4 separate regions of the Homo sapiens genome follow, and regions 1, 2 and 4 are each linked to region 3. The links come from fine-mapping of genetic effects on gene expression. A gene starts in region 3. Each other region holds a variant in brackets. All regions are shown on one strand. Distances are between the middles of the regions.

Region 1 (5,208 bases), 150 kb before region 3:
AAATTTCACAGAAACTTCCTAAACAATTATTGTTTTTCTAAAATGACCTTTCTGGTCAAAAGAACAACTTCAACAGGCCATGTGATTAGGAAATCTCAAAATATTTTTGAGCACTTGAGCCGTGAACAAGAAAGACTAATAATAAACAAACACTTATATGTCTAACAAGACCCTATTATTCAGACCGTTTTTATCATTTGTTCTCAAAACAATCTGATGAGGTAGGCAGTATCTATATTGTTCATATCAGAAACTAAAGCTGAGAAAAAACTAATCTTTATGTGAAATTATAAGCCTGCAGGCATTATGTTATTGATTTAACTGTTTTCTTATGTAATATCTACAATCTTCTGAGGGAGGTGTCTTATCCACCTTTCATCGGTCAGAAAACACAGAAATGTTAGGTCAATTGCCCAAGATCAGAGAGCTTTGAAAAAAAGAAAAATTTTCAAAGTCACATCTATTGCCCCCAAAACTCATATTCTTTGCATGGCACTATAACTGGCCTCCTGTGGACTGGTGAACTCCATGAAAAAAGTTATTAAAGTGAGGAAGGTACTGAAAGTGGATTTCGGAAACTAAAGCTTTGTAACTTTACAGAAATAGTTAAAAGATATTTCTCTTATCTAGGACATTGTGCATAAGGTGGCTGAAGAAACCATTCACATAAAGGTAATCAGAGTTTACTGCTGACAAAATAAAATATTTTCCCACAAATGTGTTAGTAAAATGGCTTTTCTGGTCAGGTGAACAACTTTAACTGGTCATCTAGCTAAAGGCAGAATTTGGAAGTAACTATCTGAATTGCATGTATACTTAGTTATTCCTCTCCTCAATAAAGAGTAAAAAATCATCAAGACATAAACCATAGGTACATTACAATATAGAATCTAAGTGCTTTTATTAACATCATGTTTTTGTGCTATGCTTAAGATTACATAAAGGTTTATGCTTTAATAAAGATTTCTCACAACCCTAGAAGATTTTTTTCAAAGATTATCCTACTTCATTTTAAGGCAAACTTTCATTCAGATGTAAATTCTGAAAGAAGATTTCAATATTGCTTAAAATACAAAAATACAAAAGAGCAAATGATATAGCATTCTTTTTATTATGAAATGCTTATTTTCAGAATCCCAGAGCTATAAAGGATCTCTGAGAGGCATTTAATTTATCCATGTGGTCTTAATACTGTATATTAATGTATTTCAAATAATGATCAGGATGGAAAGTCTCAAAGAAGGCCGCCTCCATTGTGGCAACTCCTTCATATCTGAAGGGAATCCTCAAGGCAGAAGACACCCCTTCATGGGGAGTCGTACCCATTCCCAAGCTCTCTTATCCCTACAAGCAAAAGCACGTAAATACTCAACTCTGCTCAGTGTCTAGGTCAATCCTGATCTCATGGAGGAACACTGTTAACAGTTCTAGGCCACAATTAGGTTCAAACAGAAACAGCATAAGTCTCCTTGGCTGCTAATCCAGTTCAGGTGCTTGCATCCCAATTCTGACCACCAGATTTAGTCCTAAATTCTGCATTGAAGTCTGTGTGTGTGTGTGTGTGTGTGTGTGTGCGCGTGTGTGTGTGTGTGTGTGACATGCATAATGCAAGTATGTCTCAAAAACTGAGACTTTGCCTTCATCTGGCCAGTGTCCCTGCTGGAATAGAGCCTTGCCCTGAATTCTGTTCTAGTACCTGAAACCTTACTATTAGTTGAATGGTTTCTCTTGTTTTACCAGCCTACATATCTACCTAGAATCCTAAGTACTTGCATGATATTACTTTACCTTGCCTATCAAAACACTTATAACTCCATGATGAGCCTATATTTTTTCTGTTACTATACATCTTTATAATGTGCCCTCCATATCATCAACTGTATTGAACCACACATATCATCTCAATGCCTGCCTCATTCCAGCGGGGTCGCCTGTAAGCATAATCTATCCTGGCAAGGTTAATTGTGCTACATCCAGCCCAGTCTTAAACACAACCTGTGTGGTGACCATTCCTTGGATCTGCCCCAATGCAAGACCGTCAGCACCCTGCCTTTCCTCCCCTTCTGTAGGGTCCTCATCATCAGAACTTAATAATTTCTAAAGATCACTATAGTTTTATAAAATAAAAATTATATCTTCAATAAAAGGGGGATAGAGATGTCAGCCACAGATAACAAGGACAAAAGTAACATTTATAAGTAGTTATTTTTCATTCCTAAAACAGAAATGTAAAATATGTCATTTTAATTCACAATATTTTAATGTATGTATTAAATCCTGCTGTATTTAAGAAGAATATTTTCATTTAATTAGTTTATTGCGGCACTATTCACACTAGCAAAGACTTGGAACCAACCCAAATGTCCAACAACGATAGACTAGATTAAGAAAATGTGGCACATATACACCATGGAATACTATGCAGCCATAAAAAATGATGAGTTCATGTCCTTTGTAGGGACATGGATGAAACTGGAAACCATCATTCTCAGCAAACTATCGCAAGGACAAAAAACCAAACACCACATGTTCTCACTTACAGGTGGGAATTGAACAATGAGAACACATGGACACAGGAAGGGGAACATCACACTCCGGGGACTGTTGTGAGGTGGGGGTAGGGGGGAGGGATAGCATTAGGAGATA[C/T]ACCTAATGTTAAATGGCGAGTTAATGGGTGCAGCACACCAACATGGCACATGTATACATATGTAACAAACCTGCACATTGTGCACATGTACCCTAAAACTTAAAGTGTAATAATAATAAAATTTAAAAAAAAGAATTATTATGGTAACTGAATCTCAAGTATTAATTAAATATATCTTTAAATTTTACTTGGTGTTTTTATATTAAGCATCTTGCAAGGAATCTAAGATCTTCAAAGGTAAGAATTATATCTTGCATATAATACATGATAGTTTCATCCTATGTCAAATCCATAAATCCCTACACATTGATTGAAACCACATGCTGGGGCATTTTATGGAGATTTGTAAAAGCTTTGCTGGCATTAGATTGAAGGCTGTATTAACAATTATGATAACTACTTTGGAAAAATAAAACAAACGAGGGAAAGCACAGAAAAGTTACAAGTGGCACTTGTTCTAACACTCTAAAGCAAATATAATCCCCTTCAATTCACAAAACTATTAATTACTCTCGAGGCTTGCAAGTGTTCTACACAATCTGCAAACCTTTTTCCATCTTTGCAATGCATACTTTCAGACATAGAGGTATTTGAGAACCCACTAACAGTATGCTCCTAAGGTATTATTGGGCAGTGGGTGTTAAAAAAAAAAAGTATTTTTTTAAGATACCAGGAAAACTCAGATTCCAAAATCTCCTCTACTCCTCATGTATTTCCTATTGTTTGAATTGCCGAAAGCTTTTTAGTTCAAGTTCTTAATACTAGTAAAATTGGCAATAATCTGAGTGTTTTAACATTTGAAACTTCTACCATATTTATACTACTTAGAGTAACAAAAAGTCTATAATTACAAAAAGTGGTGAGAGGAAATGGATCACAAGGATGCTAAGAATCTAAGTCTGGGAAAGGGGCTATCAAAAGGGAGCAAAGGGCAAGATTCTGGGGATAAAACAAGACCAAGTGTGGACATTTCCCACAAGTAAAGAAAGCCCGCATAACCTGAATTCTGGCTTACACCAGGCAGGTGTCAGCGTGGCACAGACCAAGAGAACCAGGACTAATAAACATGAAGATGGCAAGTGATTTTCAACTCAGGCTCCTGCTCTTTTTGTCCAGCTCCACTGTTTGCTTCCTACCTGCTGTTAAATCAACAGTCCTAGGCAGACTTCAGTCACGTGCCAAACAACATGGGGGCCAACTGGTTTTGGAAAAGTTCATGAGAACTAGGCTCCATCTTTATCTTTCTGCCTTTTTAGGTACTGCTATCCAAATGCTGGTTGAACAGCTGAGCTTAAAATCTCTCCCAGATATAATGGAAAAATGAAGGCAAACGATCAATCTCCTGCAAGCTTCTAAACCATGTGAGAACAGAATAAGACCCAGGATGATCAGGCTGAATTCTGCTTCCCCTAAAATTTGGCAGAGAAGCACCTCCATCTGTGTTCCTTGGGCCCTTGGAAAATCACTGTGCCTGACATTTTAAGGCCCTGGATACCAAAGACAACATTCTTTTTGCAGGGAAGAACAGACTGAATCATCCGTTAGATATAGCAATAGCTTTCTTTATGGAGAAACCTAACTAGCTTATCTGGCAGACATCTGAGGCACAGATACTCTTTACTTAATGTAGACACAGCCTAGGTCGTACAGAAAAATAAATAAGAATGTACTTCCAAAGAAATATAAATCCATACAATTAAATTGATTTCATTCATGCTCCAGTTGCCCTGTTCATTTCCAACTTTTTTTATGCTGATACCTTCCCTCCCAACTTCTCTGTTCATGCTTGGGCTCACACATTCTCTTAATCTGTTAATTATCTGTATTAGTTATTCATTAAATACTATATGCTTTTGGCTGGAACCTGACCAAGAAATTTTTTTTAAGTTTCATGCTCTCCTGGGAATAACTTATAAGACAAAAATCCAGATTTCATCACACGATGCACGTAGTGACCTCCCTGGGGGAGATGTTACCAGTAAAACAAAGCTGCTTTCTGTCAAAGCAAAGTGCTGTGGATTCTGAAATTTGAAGCCAAAAATAAAATATTCACAAACAACCAAAATATTTATGATTAAAGATGTTATGCTTTCAAAATTATGCTCTACAAACTTTTGCTATGTCTTCTATTAAAAAGCAGTAGCCTAATGCTAAAGTGTCAGATTCTAACCTGAAGCTATTTTAGATGTTCCTGTTTTTAAAAATTGAGAAACACTATATGTAGAGAATCTAATGTTTTTTTCTTTTTCCTCTCTCCTTACCAAAATCAATCAAATTACAATGGCTACCCAGAACAGTATGAGGGAAACTTTATCATTCACAACACATACATAACCAACAGCAAGGAGGCTACCCTAACCAGTATTGTATACAGAGTGTCAACAAAAGACAGGAAAGAATACAAACTGCCTGCTGTAAGGAAGACCAGAGCAAGAGATCTGAGAGCTAACGGAGAACTTAAGAATGAGAACTGTGATCCAAAAGAAATTCTGAGGGAAAATAAGATGAATGGTGAAATCGGAAAGGAGGAAAACTAGCTAGAGAAATAAGAGGCCCCAGAT
Region 2 (5,208 bases), 110 kb before region 3:
CCTAACGTTTACCTCCTTGAACAATGTCTCCCAAGGTTGCTAAAGTGGGACTCTGGTATTCCTGATAAGAAACTGACCATCTCCCAAGGTTACAAAAGGAAGAGTCTGGCATTCCCCATAAGAACTATGCACACGTACCCTAAAACTTAAAGTATAATTGGAAAAAAAAAAAAAAGAACTGGATCAGATCCAGCCAGCTAAAGACAAGTTGGACTCAGCACTGGCCTTTCACTGATTTTTTTCCTCTTCATAATCTCATTATAATACTAAAATCACACCCAGGGGTGTAGATTTAACAGGCCAATGAGACATATGACACATAAAGAAGCATGTTATCAGACTGTGCAGATGCTAAAAATTCCCCACCTCTACGTGCCTACACATCACTCCTTTTCTCGCTTCAGCTTCCTTAAAATGACAAGAGCTTAGCCCTTTGGGGAGCTGGCACCAGGATCTCTTTCCCTTATGCTCCTCCCTTGTCTTGCTAGAGCTGCAAGCCTATTAAACCTTGCCTGAGAAAAATTTCTTTTTGGCGTGATGTTAATTTCTATTTATGCAAGAGCCAATATTTATCTGAACTACAGTGACACTCTGGGTACCTCCATCATGAGCTATGGCCTTCATATCACCAGAGCAATGCCATGTGCGACAGGAGGAAGAGGGAAGAACACTAAAATGCTCCACCCTGGTTCACTTTGTCCCCTGGAGATCCATGTAGTTCAGCTTATGGGCATGTTTCACAAATTTTTCTTAAAAACAATTCTTTAGCTTCCAACTACAGCCTTTCTTTCTAAAGGACTCGAGTGTTGCCAGTGAAGTCACACTGAGTTTACGATGCCATGTTATCATCTGCAGCTGCCCCTCTCTCCAGCGTCAGCTCTTCAGGAACCACACACTAACATCTCCCTTGCAGGATGCTTTCCTCTAAACAAGTCTACCCATGAACAAAGAAGCCTAGGGAAATTGTTGGTCCCATACACCCAGCTACAACTGGATCACCCATACATGCCTCTCTATCAAATATATATTTTATCAATTAATTGCAAATTAGTTGATATTCCTGATAGGCCTCTGGGACTGTAGACAACACTGTGGCTTGATAAAAGTTTAACAGTGGCCGGGCGCCGTGGCTCACACCTGTAATCCCAGCACTTTGGGAGGCTGAGGAGGGCTGATTGCCTGAGGTCAGGAGTTTGAGACCAGTCTGGCCAACATGGTGAAACCCCGTCTCTACTAAAAATACAAAAAAAAAAAAAAAATTAGCCAGACATAGTGGCATGTGCCTGTACTCCCAGCTACTCGGGAGACGGAGGCAGGAGAATTGCTTGAACCAGGGAAGTAGAGGTTGCAGTAAGCCGAGATCGTGCCACTACACTCCAGCCTGGGTGACAGAGCAAGACTCTGTCTCAAAAAAAAAAAAAAATTTTTAACAGCATGTTGTTACTAAATCTGTGATCAAAAATCAACATTCCTGTCTCAAAATAATTCTAGGATATTCAGGTTAATCTGACCCAATCTATCCACTTTTATCAGGTGAAGCTTCTCACAAAAAAAGTGCATCAAGCAGCACACTAACAGCAAAGTCAGTATCTTCCCTCTTTATTAATTCTCTACTGCCACATCGCAAATTACGACAAACTTGACAGCTTAAAACAATACCCACTTATTAGCTCACAGTTCTACAGGTCAGAATTTCAGGCACAAAGAGACTGGTTTCTCTGCTCAGATCTTATAGGCTAAAATCAAGGGGTCAGCCAGGCTGCATTCTCATCCGGAGCTCAAGTGCTCTTCCAAGACCATGTAATGGTAGCAGAATTCAGTTCCTTGAAGTTGTAGAACTGTGGTCCCCAATTCATCACTCTCTGTCAGCAGAGGCTGCTCAGCTCTGAGGGGCCAGCTACAATTCTTGCCATAGGGCCCCCTTCATCCTCAAAGCAAGCAACAAAGATTCTCCCTTATGTCAAAGGGATATGTATATCCCACTCACTTAGAATCCCTTTCTCCAGGAAATGCCCAGTCTCTTTTAAAAGCTTACCTGATTCGGTCAGGCTTATCAAGGATGTTTTTCTTGTCTTAAAGTCCCTTTTATTCACAGTTCTGGCCCACTCTTGAAGGCAGAGGATTATACAAGTATGTACAGGGGGTGAAAATCTTGGGGGTTGTCTTAAAATTCTGCCTACCACATTACCCTTCCTACTGATAATAGTTTCTTTCTACCACATAATCATGCACTAAATTGAATTATCCCCTGGGTAGAAAGAAAAGAAAAAAAAAAAGTAAAAGTGAATCATAGACATGGGAATGAATGTGTGCTACTGGTATGGCTTCTCTGATTTGACACATATGTGAACTTTACAAAATTCTAAAATCTATACATAATGTAGTGTGCATCTATTAAATCCCTGAACTTCTTTGGTCTTCAGTTTCATAATTTGTAAAACAATGATTGCCACTTTGTATGAAATAGTCATAAATACAGTCATAAATAAAATATTTATATTCTAAAATTTACAAGGTGACGGAAATGAAAAAAATGGTCTCAACTTATCTTTCTGTTAATGTCCATGAAAAGTAATCTCTACAACAGGTTCATTAAAAAGTAGCCTCCTAAACCTTTGATAAATGATCTATTTGACCTTGCATTAAAACATTCCCCTGGCCAGGCGCGGTGGCTCACGCCTGTAACCCCAGCACTTTGGGAGGCCAAGGCGGGCGGATCACGAGGTCAGGAGATCGAGACCATTCTGCCTGACACGGTGAAACCCTGTCTCTACGAAAAGACACAAAAAATTAGCCGGGCGTAGTGGGGGGCGCCTGTAGTCCCAGCTACTCGGGAGGCTGAGGCAGGAGAACAGCGTGAACCCGGGAGGTGGAGCTTGCAGTGAACCGAGATCGCGCCACTGCACTCCAGCCTGGGCGACAGAGCGAGACTCCATCTCACAAAAAAAATTCCCCTATATATTATTTCTATTTATAGAATTTTAAGAAAATATTTGCAATTATTTAATCACTTTAATTTTTCAAGTTACTTTCATAATTATTGTCACATTCGTTATTTAAAAAACTATATAAAATAGGTAAAACATGAATTACTTTCTTCATTTCACAAGTGGAAAAAACCCTGAGTCTGAGAAAGAATAAA[T/TA]ATTTTTCCACAGCAAGTTAGGTAAAGAACCAAGAAGCAGATTCCAATTTTTTTCTTCAACTTGTTTTTTTTGTTTTTTATTTTGTTTGTTTGTTTGTTTGTTTTGATATGGAGTCTCTCTCTGTCACCCAGGCTGGAGTACGGTGGTGCAATCTCGACTCACTACAACCTCCGCCTCCCAGGTTCAAGTGATTCTCCTGCCTCAGCCTCTCAAGTAGCTGGGACAACAGGAGCCCGCCACCACACCTGGCTAATTTTTGTATTTTTAGTAGAGACGGGGTTTCACTTTTTTGGCCAGGCTTGTCTTGAACTGCTGACCTCAAATGATCCGCCCGCCTCAGCCTCCCAAAGTGCTGTGATTACAGGCATGAGCCACCGCGCCCAACCTCTTCAACTTGTATTTTAAGTTCAGGAGTACATGTGCAGGATGTGCAGGTTTGTTAGGTAGGTAAACGTGTGCCATGGTGGTTTGCTGCACAGATCATCCCATCACCTAGGTATTAGGCCCAGCATCCGTTAGCTATTCTTCCTGATGCTCTCCCTCCCCTCCTCCCCACCCCCGACAGGCCCCAGTGTATGTTGTTACCCCCATGTGTCCATGTGTTCTCATTGTTCAGCTCCCACTTATAAGTGAGAATATACAGTGTTTGGTTTTCTGTTTCAGCATTAGTTTGCTGAGGATAATGGCTTCCAACTCCATCCATATCCCTGCAAAGGACATGATCTCATTCCTTTTTATGGCTGCCTAGTATTCTATGATGTATTTGTACCAAATTTTCTTTTATCCAGACTATCATTGATGGACATTTAGGTTGATTCTATGTCTTTGCTATTGTGAGTAGTGCCACAGTGAACATATGTGTGCATGTATCTTTATAATAGAACAAATTATATTCCTTTGGGTATATACCAGTAATGGAATTTCTGGGTCAAATGGTATTTCTGCCTCTAGGTTTTTTCTAATGTGGCCTGAGGCACTTCCTATTCCACTAATGCTCCTTTCATCTTTAGTAGTAAGCAGCTATTTTTTTAAGGTGTACAAATATCACATCTTGTTTATCTTGCATTCCAAGGGGCATAGCACAGTCAATGTTTGTTGATGCAACCAACATTGAGCACTGCTAAGTGCCAGATATGGTTCCAAGCAGTGAGGCGCTGGGGCTATCTGACACACATGACACAGCCCTGCTTTCATGAAGCTTGTCAAGTTTAGATATTTCTTCCAAGGAGCATGATTTCTGACTAAGTCTCCAAGGAGCACTTAAACATCTGAGCACATAGAATCTTTTGATGTAGGATATGAAGTCAAGCAAAGGAAACAGTAATTACATCAAGTATTGAAATAATAACCAGTCACCAACTCATCACAGTGGAACATTTCAATTGAATTCTGAAGAATATTCAATATAAATTTAAAATATAGCCTCTAAGAATAATTTATGTCATTTAGTCATTCACAAAAAAGGAAACTTAACACTTAACACAAGATATACTATTAATCTGCATTGCTCTACAGTGATTTTTTTTCCATTTAATCCTTGCAACATCCCTTTGAGAGTAGGTGCTATTACTAACCTCCTTTTACAGATGAGGAAACCAAGGCAAAAACAGAAACTTGCCCAAGATCACACAGCCAGTAAAAGCCAAGATCTAAATCCCCAGTATCTCATTCTGGAATTCAGGCTTTTAACCAGTAGGCTCTGTTACCCAGTAAATATTTGCTGAGCATCTTCTAAATTCCAGGCACCGGGGATTGAAAAGCTGTTTTCGTTTTATTAATAGGATTATGAACTGAAGGAGAAATCTGATCTGATATAAATCTCGTATGACCTGATTTGCATATGAGCTTATCTGAATCATTTCTTTGGGTGGAAAATGCACTACTACAGTTTCTATAAGTTTCTGAATGGTAATGACAACTTCTTCCTTCTATACCTCCCTGCTATTACAAGAGTGTCTTCTCAGAAGAGAGTAAAGGAGTTTCCAAAAAGAAGAAAAATACTTATTGGACACCCCCTAGCCAAAATTCAGGTAAACATTTTTCTGGGGCATATGCCATATATATC
Region 3 (5,000 bases):
TCGCGTCCACCCAAAGGCTCTACGAGCGTCTATGGTTCTTCCTTTTCAGACAGGATAACTCAACCTGCAGTTCTGAGAGAAATAGGGCGACGGATCTCAAACTTTCCTTTGCAAAGCCAGTTTCTGAAAATAACACGTTCCCCCATTGATAAGTGAAGATCAGTAGCCTCAAGAAAACAATACTTGGTAGGCACCTGGCCTTTCAGAATTGAAGGGGGAAGGAATGGCAAAGCAGTTAGCAGAAAACCCGGGTACTAGTAGCAAGATCCGGGAGACATCTAACCGGAAAGAAATAAAAAACCATTAGTTTCCCGAAGCCATTCTTATTCTGAACGCTGTTCGTTAAGAGAATCATTTACTAAAGCTCTCTTGTAGTAGCCTTTACAAAAGCTTTATTTCATTCAGTAAGAAAGCGCCCCGTCCCAAATCTAAATAAACCTTACATAGATGAGGCTCCGGAAATTATCAGCTTGATTCTTTATGAAGATAGTTAGAGGTGGATAAATCAATAGACTCGCTGAAACACCCACCTTCTGCAAACAGGCCTGAGAATTAACTAATCAGAAGTGGACAAAAAGTAGGGATTTCAGAAAGATGACCTGACACATCCCATTGATCTTCCCTGGAATGCGACCCCCAACTCCTTATTAAGAGTCCAAAATGGTTACCAGCCAGGATGGGTCTGGGTGAGGAATCGAATTACAACCCACTTCAATCCTCGACCTGGTCGTTTGCTGTTATTAGGAGAAATGGGGCAGAGAGGGAGGGCACCGCTCACGGAGCCTCATTTCGCATGCTCCGATCCCCTCTCGGCGTCCCTCTACTCCGCCCCTACCCTGACCGCCCGCGAGGGAGACGCCGGCCGATGGACCCGCATCTGCCCTCACCTCTCGCCTTCCCCGGGCGATCCCTCTACAGTCCCGGACCCCCGAGAAAGGGGAAGGGAGACGTGTGCACACGGGGGCTTCCGGGACCGCGGTCCTGCAGTTGCCGCTCCGGTCCCCAGCGCTGGCCGGCGACCCGAGGCGCGGCTCGCACCTACCTGCAGCCCCGCTTCCCGGTGGCGGCAACACCTAGCGATGCTCCTGCAGCTTTTGCGGGCCGGCGCCAGCCTTATCGCTCTCGCATCGCTTCCAAGATGCCAATCCGCCGTCACCATCCAGGGGCATAGGGAACCGAAGTCTGGTGCTGTGTGATCGTGGAGGGCGGCGTGTGAGTGTGGCCCTGAGCGTGCGAGTGTGCGCGCGCGTGTGTGGATGTGTTTCCTCCTCCGATGGCAAAGACGGTTCAGGAATCTGACATCCAAGCTGGAATCCCCCTGAAGCGGGTGAAGGTGAGCCTGATCCTTCTCCCCGCTTCTTTATTCCACAGTGTCAAAGTAATCAAAAGATTTGTTTACTGAGGAAAAGCCAAAGTCCCGCAGCCCTTGGCAGCGCCCGCGGTCGCCTCCTGTCCTCGCCGGATGCGCGCGGTGCGCTCAGCTCCCTGGACTGCAAGAATCAAGGCGGTCTTGCTGCAATTACCGCTCTTATTCCATCTCTGATTTGTTTGCTTTTAAGGCCGACTAAAGACTTTTCCTCTCGCCTCACGTCGTCTCTCCCTCTCACACACACACACACTCACACATCCTCCGTTCCCTCTCTCCCGCCCTCCCTCTTGTTCTCTGGGGAAAGGCAATTGGACAGAATGATTCACCTTCAGGAAAGCAGCCTCGGCCACGCACTTCTCGAGTTCCCTGGCTCTCGCAGGTACCGGGTCTCCAACGTGGCGGAGTTGCTGGGAAGCTCGGGACAGGAAGGAGGAGAGGCTCTGAGCTCAGCCGATGTCCCCCCTCCAGACGCCCGCGTTCCTCCGTCCAGGTGCCCCTGTTCCCACTGCTCGCAGATAGGTCCCCGCTGGTGCCCTCGCGGAGACTTGGCGCCTTCCACTCGAATCCACTTAGCAGCAACTCCTGGCCAGCTTCAGCCCCTCAATCCCGCCTCGAAGTGCTGCGGGCAGAGCCCCACGCAGCCCACCCGCTGCCCTTCTAGGCATCGTGGGCTGGAAGGAAGGGAAACCCGCCGATGTCCCCCTGGTAGCAGTGCCCTGGCACCGTCACCACCGAGGAGGTGCGAGTTCCAACATCGAACACAAGCGAGCAGGTGTCGCCTGTGTCACTTTGCTAAAGGCGGGAGGGGAGAAAGAAAGGAGCGGGGGGAGGGGGCCGAGGAAACAAATCCAGATCACCGGCGGAGAAAGAAGCCGTTTAGCAAGCAAAGCCTCCTCTCCGCGTCCCACCCCAGATGCTATACTGTCAAAAGACACTGATGCTAATCTTTTAGAAAGTCGCCATAAAGGGCAGAGCCCCTGCTCCACTCTAGAACCCTATTCCACCCAGCCTGGCTGTCCAGTGAGTACAGAGTGACTTGGCTCCCCCGTATAGTGCAGCGAGAATGCAGGAGAATAGGTCCTGACACTCCAGGTTGAGTTAAGCAGTAAAATGGAATGGCAGGGCCGGGCGGCGTTGCCTCGCCTCTCTCTCCCAACAGCCAGTTCTGTTAGCCCCAGCAACTGCCGTTGAGAGCAAACAACGGTCCTGCAGAAAAAGAACGAGACAGTAAAAGATGAGGAGGCAACTGGTATAAAAGCTGGACTATGTCTCCCTCTAGAGGGTCAACCGGATTAGAACGCTTTACTAGATGTAACAGACCAGTTTCTCTCCATAAAGAAAAAGAAAAAAATATCTGGTTTCAGATAATTTGCATTTTTACAAATTACAACTTCTCAAGGATTTAGACGGAGGATTTTCACTGCAGCCCTATTAAGCAAAGCCCTTGCTAAAGGAACGTCGTGATATTCATGACGCTGGAAGGTCATGTCCTTACATGTTTGGTCAAATTGGGTGTCGGTTTAAGCGCTGTGCATATGAGCTCAAATGAAGGGTCTTCTGAGGCTCACTTCGATCATGTTTGGAGATGAGCAAAACCTTAATCTAGTGATTAGAAGACTATTCAAAAATGAATAATTAGTAAGAATGAATTCAGAAAAAGAAAATCTGAAACAAAGAAAGGGAATGCTGACCCAGGAAATTTTACAAGTCCTTTACAAGGAAAGATAACTCAAGAATCTGGTTTTGGAGCCAGTTTTCATACCTCTTTTTCAACTAGACCAATAATGGTCAAGATAGCTAAATTCCTTCCAGCTCTAAAGGTCTGTGCTTTTATATAGCTGTGATTCACTGAAACCATTGACAAATTAGGTATCACAAGCTCTCTTCACCAGCTATAAAATAAAAGTAATACTACATACCATATTTACAAAGAAATATAGAATATGTGCTTCACTTAGCTATTTTATCTTAACATGCTTAGTAAATCAACCATATTTTGTATCTAAAATGCATCAAGTAATTTAATTATGTTGAGGTGGTCATTTTTATAAAAAATAGCTCCACCGATTTTATAAAGTTTTGTTACATCAGTCCAAATCAAGCTAGGTCCCATCTGTAACCTTAACATTTAGATTTTTGTGAACTTACTATTTGAGCTGGGGGTTTGCTTTCAAAATGTTTCTGTATGTTCAAAAATTGTAAAATGTGTATTAAAGTTATTATTAAACACCCTTCCATTCACTCTGAATTTCTGGAGCAGTTCTATTTTAACTTGATAATCTAAATTAGCACAGTCATAAAGAAAGAAAAGAATGTATTTTTTAAATAGCTGAGACTAGTTGAAATCATTTAAAACAAAGCACCAAAACTAAACAAGGCAAGTTTTACCGTAACTAATTGCTCTATGGCATATTTGACTTTGTCTAGTAGTATACAGCAATCATTTGTTTCCAAGGATCTCTCAGATAGTCTCTTTCAAAAGATTTATGCCATGTGATTAAATATTTCATTCCACTTACATAGTAACTTATATCCAGGAAAGCAACGTTTACATTTTAAAACACCTGGCACTGTTGCACTGCAAATCTTACAGTATTTTTTTGTCTGCTGTGTTCAATAGTGTGATGAAATTCAAGCAGGAATGACATTGGAAACTTGGACTCTGTACTAGAAAGAAGTCACTTACAAAATCACTTTAGAACATTGGCTTTCTTTTCACACACACACACACACACACACACATACAAAAAAACATAAAGCATACATTATAATCTTTCTACCTTCTAATTCATTAACTTTTTGTGGTTGTAATCTATAGTTTTGTCATCTTGTTAAAATTTTATTTGTATTGTTTAAGTGTGGGACATTTTCAGCCTTATTTTTCTAACTAAACCCACTGTGTTTTTACAATATATGAAAAAGTAAAGAGAACAGATATATAAATTAATTACAAAATAGAACAAAATTTCTTATCCAATGTCATATGATGCTGAAATTCTATCATAACCTCTGTGCTTTTTGTAAATAATTCCCAATAATTTTTAGATCAAGATATTCCTATTTCCAGCATCTCCTAGACAAAATAAAATCTTTTGCATTCTCTTCAAAGGAAACAAAGTAGTAAAGATTCTCCTAATTTAACAGAAATTTTTTGTTGATACTTCTTACCTTCTACAGGCATGCCTCAAAAATGTTGCAGGTTTGGTTCCAAACCACCACAAATATTGCAATAAAGTGAGTCACACAATTTTTTTGGTTTCTCAACACATGTGAAAGTTATGTTTACACCATACTGCAGTCCATTAGGTATGCAATAGCATTTTGTCTTAAAAATGTACATATCTTACCTTGAAAATGGTTTAATGCTTTTTTTAAAAAAAGTGTACTGATGATCTGAGCCTTCAGTGATTCCTAATCTCTTTGCTGATGGAGAGTCTTGTTTCAGTGTTGATGGCTGCTGATGGATCAGGGTAGTGGTTGCTGAAGGTTGGAATTGCTGTGGCGATTTCTTAAAATAAGACAATAATGAGGTTTGCTGTGTCAATTGACTCTTCCTTTCACAAAAGATTTCTCTGTAACATGCAATGCTGCTTGATAGCATTTTATCCACAGTAGAACTTCTTTCAAAATT
Region 4 (5,208 bases), 91 kb before region 3:
ATGTGCATTATAAATTTAACTTCCAGTCGGAGAAATAGCAATGCAGTAAAATCTCATTGAGAATGGAGCATTTTAGATAAATAAATTTTGCCAAGCATATGAGGAGGCAAATAATACACCAAGAGCCAGCAATATGCCAGGCCCTTGCTGGCTGCACTTCACATATATGATGTCATCCCAGCCCCGTGGCACCCCTGCATGGTGGGAAGTATCCCCTTCACTTTACAGATCAGTAAACCAAAGCTCAGAGCATAAGTAACTTGCCCACATCACTTCAGCCTAAGAGATGGATCTGGATGCAAATACAGTCTGACTCTGAGTCAGAAAAATTTTTTTCATTTAGATGATGTTTTATTCAATAAATGCTTATAAAATGAGAACAAATTATAGATGTAAATATTCTTTTAAAGTAGAAAATATTGAATGTATTTTCTCAAAGTCTCAAGGATAATTATCAATATGAATTTTTTTATTTTTCTTGTTATCCCTCAAGGTCAAGTTTTTGATTATTCCACTTCCTGTCATTATGTCTGCCACAAACACTGCCTCTTCATAATAGCAACTCCCTCTACACACACACACACACACACACACACACACACAGCCCTTCAAGTTTGTTCTTTCAATCTTCTCTGGGTGGGAAACGAGAACACCATGTTGTTTAACTATTATATGTTCATTGAGAGCCATTAAAATTCTGGAAGAACTGAAAAAGTCAATTCCATGTTACCAAAGTCTTTGAAACCACTATGTCAGAGGCCTCCTTGGTTTATTCCCTTACTCCTAGTAACATTTACATCCCAAAGGACTGAAATTTCAGAAATGAAGGCTGGAGATAGAAAATTGCTTCCAAATACATGAAAAGTGGCTGTATTTATACCCCTGTACAGTTTGGTCTGAGATTTCTGGTATACTAGCTAACTTCTAAATATAGACTCCAGCAATGATTTATGGACTAGATCATATTTGCAATCCCTTACCCACCTGTTAGATCACTTGAAAATCTTGTTATAGCCTATATCATACATCTCATCCCATCCAGTCATCCTAAAAGAACAGTGTAGACCTTTCTATAACAATGAAGATCATCACTTGTGTACTTCTTGAATGTCAAGCACTGCACTAGGCACTCTGCATGCAGTGACTCACTAATCTCATAAGCAAACAGTTCTGCCCATTGTGGTATGCACATTGTGCTCTTCAAAACTTTTGAGTGCCAGTTATATGGACTACTAGGTGAGTGGTACTCCTTGCAAATGTACAATGCCCAACCTACACAGTGGCATAAAGGTAGGTATTATTGGATTCCCATGGCACAGAAATTGAGGAAACTGAAGCGTAAAAGTTTAAGTGATATAGGTATGTCAGGAAAAAAGGTCTTAATCACTGTGTTATACTGCACCCTACATTTTCCTACAGAATAATGTTGAGTTTTGATACCTTAAAACATACCCATACTTGCAGACACTTCAGATATATCTATACACAAGCACTCAGAATGCAGAAATGGCCTAGGTTAGTAGATTACCCAACAACAACTATCTACTTCTCAAGAGTGCCCCAGAATAAACCAGGACCCAGAAGAGTCCTGATGATCCTAAGAGACCCCTCAAATATAAGAACAGCTCCATAGATTAGATTATGGAACGAATTACCCATGCCCACCTAAGATCCCTAAGAGCCAATACATACATGACTAATGGATTTAACCAATACAGTGCCATGGCTGACATCAAATTATCAAACTAATTCCTAAATGAGTCTATAGGTGCTAAGAACTGATACATCTCTGATCCATAACCATGTCCAGTACGAATTTGGACTTAGCTGGAAATATACACTGAATACACTTTGCATTTACCTGGAGATGCACACTCATCATGCAATACTTGGTAACCAAATTTCCCTAGATTGTTAGTTCTTCCATAAGCCCAAACGTAACTCTTATTCAGAAAGGTAAACACTGTAGAGTTCAAGCAGGTTCCAAGGCAGCTCTGCAGCTGATAAGCCACAGAACCTTTTGTGCAGCTTCTATAAGAGCAATCCATCAGATGGCATGTACCATCACTACCCTACACAGTAAGTTCTACTTCAGCACAGTAGGAATGGACCATTTCTGGAGTCTATTTGAGAGCCCTTTCATTTATCTCAATTTTTACTGTTTACTGAGTACCTACTCTAAGTCTAATACTAGCCAATGGTATAGCACTAGCCAATGGTATATTGAAATGAAAGTGTAGCACTAGCCAATGGTATATTGAAATGAAAAGGAATAGTCCCTGTCCTCAAAGAACCCACAGGAAAAGGAAGGAGGAAGATGTAAAAATAGATAAATCCTAAAACACATAGTAGTGCTGACAAAATGGTGAAAGAGCAATTAGCTCTGCCTGTGGGTGGGACAGGAGGTTGGAGAAAGATTCATAGAAAAAAAAAAGTGACAGTACTAATGGGTCTTGGAGGACAAGTAGGAGTTTGCCTAGTTAAGAAGCTGAGGTGGAGAGCAGGTGGGAGAAAGCTGTTTCTTGCTATATAATTAACTGCAAGAGCATAAAAGGAAATTTTCTTCCTGCTTTCATTATACTTGTGCTTTGTCCTCCCTTGATTATATTTTCTTTGAGTTTAAAGTAAGCAATCAGGGGAGATTCACTAGAATGTTATTTGGATTGAAGTGGAATGGTCTGGGTTCAGGTAGAAACTATTGCTATTTTTAAAATATTTTTCTGGGTCCATTAAAAAATCAGCTGCAATATCATGACTTTTCAACAGTTCATGTTGTGAAAACATGAGATATTTTTCTTCAGAAAAGTGTAACTTGAAGGTCACAATTAAATTAAACATCAACATTTATTAAGATCAAGTTAATACTCTCTGAAAATTAGATTACTCCCCCCAGTGTGTATTTAAATTGACAGCTGGTGACTAGGGTAACGTGTTCCACATTGTTGCACCATAGCAACATAGAAATCTTTACAGAATGTACAATGATTGCTGAAATGGTGATTCCTGAGATCTTTTCCAGTAAACCCCATGAGCTGAACTACTTCCTAAACAGCAGTGTCAGAAGTGTTCTAAAC[T/A]ACATGGCTTTATAGAGAACTCCAGAGCTACCTCCTAAATCTGAACAATTCCTGTATTATGATACAATAATGTACTCTGGACCCAATTTCCTCATCAGCTTAAAGAAAGAGAAAAATACTAAGATGTATTACGGTAGAGGAAAAATAAGCTAGCACATATTTAGGTAAATCATATATCTACCATGTTTAATACTCATAGACTTCACTTAAGAAGACTCTAGGGCTGTCCTGAGCACAGTTGGTCCATCGCCTTTGTATCTGTCTTATCAGCAGTCTACTACAGTCTCTCCAAAGAGGAGAGAAACTTATGTTTCCCACATATATTCTGGGTAGTACTAGCCTCGACTTCTCTTTCTACAGCACATCCTTGTGCTCATGCAACCTCTAGCCCTGCTGACAATAGATGTGTGAACTCAATTTCATGACTCCCATTCATCTGATCAGAGTTCACACTCAGAAAAGTTGAAGAAAAGCATCTTTTAACACTGTCATCTTACACTCATTACAGCTGAAATCAGAAGCATCGCACTGGAGGAAACGTTGACCAAAATCCTGTTTGCTGTTCATTCAGAAATGTTGCTTCCCCAGAACTTCTGGCATTCACCTTGCTAACACTGACTACTTCTTCAAATCTGTAATATTTGCTGTATGTCTAGCTGGATGTTTTCATTTCCAATTTCATCCTAAGGTCAAAATCACACACTTACCCCATCAGAACCAGCAATGATCTGTTATTATCCAGTCCAATATATGAAGGGTGTCTTCAAACAGCAACTAGAGTTGTGCAGAATGGCTTATTAAAGACTACATGCTTCCGGCCAGGCATGGTGGCTCACACCTGTAATCCCAGCATTACAGGGAGGCTGAGGCAGATGGATCACCTGAGGTCAGGAGTTCGAGACCAGCCTGACCAACATGGAGAAATCCCATCTCTACTAAAAATATAAAATTAACCAGGTGTGATGGCGTATGCCTGTAGTCCCAGCTACTCGGGAGCCTGAGGCAGGAGAACCGCTTGAACCCGGGAGGCGGAGGTTGCGGTGAGCCAAGATTGCGCCATTGAACTCCAGCCTGGGCAACAAGCATGAAACTCCTTCTCAAAAAGAAAAAAAAAAAAAAGACTACATGCTTCCTCATAAACACCTGGGAACTGGAGGGGCAGGATGGTATGCATTGATAGGAAATGATACAAATGATAAATGAACAATGTCTAATTATTCAGGCATTGCTCAGACTCAGAGACAAAAGCAGGAAAACTGAGAGTTAGGGATGAAACTCCATCCTCCTCTAACCCTATTGTGCCTGTGTACTGCAGTACATATTAAAGTAACATCAAGACCTATTTTTAGACTTCTGCAATTCCACAGGCATAAATCATTCCTGTACCACAAGTCACCTTTGAGTTGGCAATGCCAAGTTTAACATTTTGCAGAATCCTACAATATAATTGAAAGCAAGTGATATTTAAAATGAATAGTGATAATTTTAATAGAATAAAATTAGCCTAAATATAGCTTGTTTGAGGGAATTTATTGAGTAATAATTAAAAGGAAAAGTGACAAACGTGCCATTTAGCTAATCCTATCTTCACAATAGCTTTCACAGTTGAATTTGGAATGCTGTTCTTCTGAAGCAAAAAAAAAAAAAGCTAATGTAATGGTCTTTTTCTTTTTACATAATATTGATTAACCCTCAGCGATTTTAGACACCAGGGTTTGCTCTGAATTGCGCATCTGATTAAAGAAGGAAAAGCATAGTACAACTAAAGTCACAAGCTGGTCAAAGTGTTACTTTTTATATTAGCCCGTGTCTTTTGTTGAGGAGAATTAAAAACAAAATCTTTTCCCAACCCAGAAATCTTATCCATAAAAGTAGCAAGAAAGAAAACATTTTTACCATTGAATAAGCATTAAACCAAAATGGAATGTGCATCATAGGTAATCTGCTTAGAGATTCCAGAGAATGAAAGAAATCTCACTCTTGTATACAGCCACACAGATACAAATCATTACATACATATTTTCAAGATAAGCAATAACTAGTCCTCAACTAAGAGGACTTGATGGTACAATTTGTCATGCACGCTTCATCCTAAATTTACCTGGTAATCGGGGTGACCATCGGTGTAAGCTAA

Evidence for each region. PIP is the estimated chance that this variant, and not a neighbour inherited with it, causes the effect. A credible set is the group of variants that fine-mapping cannot tell apart.
Region 1: its variant is the best candidate, but not a certain one, in a credible set for the expression of TAFA2 in whole blood (TOPMed, PIP 0.87).
Region 2: its variant is the best candidate, but not a certain one, in a credible set for the expression of TAFA2 in aorta (GTEx, PIP 0.51).
Region 4: its variant is the best candidate, but not a certain one, in a credible set for the expression of TAFA2 in whole blood (TOPMed, PIP 0.65).

The regions. Positions count from the first base shown.
Region 1 is chr12:62,040,856-62,046,063 of GRCh38, forward strand. All of the region lies in intron 1 of TAFA2 (TAFA chemokine like family member 2), which reads right to left. Among named protein-coding and RNA genes, the nearest start is that of TAFA2, 150 kb to the right of the region's middle. The variant C/T (reference allele first, on the strand shown) is at 2,647.
Region 2 is chr12:62,078,256-62,083,463 of GRCh38, forward strand. All of the region lies in intron 1 of TAFA2 (TAFA chemokine like family member 2), which reads right to left. Among named protein-coding and RNA genes, the nearest start is that of TAFA2, 110 kb to the right of the region's middle. The variant T/TA (reference allele first, on the strand shown) is at 3,143.
Region 3 is chr12:62,190,217-62,195,216 of GRCh38, forward strand. TAFA2 (TAFA chemokine like family member 2) reads right to left here and starts at 2,557. Exons shown (of 5, transcript NM_178539.5): 1 at 1,043-2,557. RefSeq lists an enhancer at 1,949-2,482 and a silencer at 3,852-4,146.
Region 4 is chr12:62,099,569-62,104,776 of GRCh38, forward strand. All of the region lies in intron 1 of TAFA2 (TAFA chemokine like family member 2), which reads right to left. Among named protein-coding and RNA genes, the nearest start is that of TAFA2, 91 kb to the right of the region's middle. The variant T/A (reference allele first, on the strand shown) is at 3,075.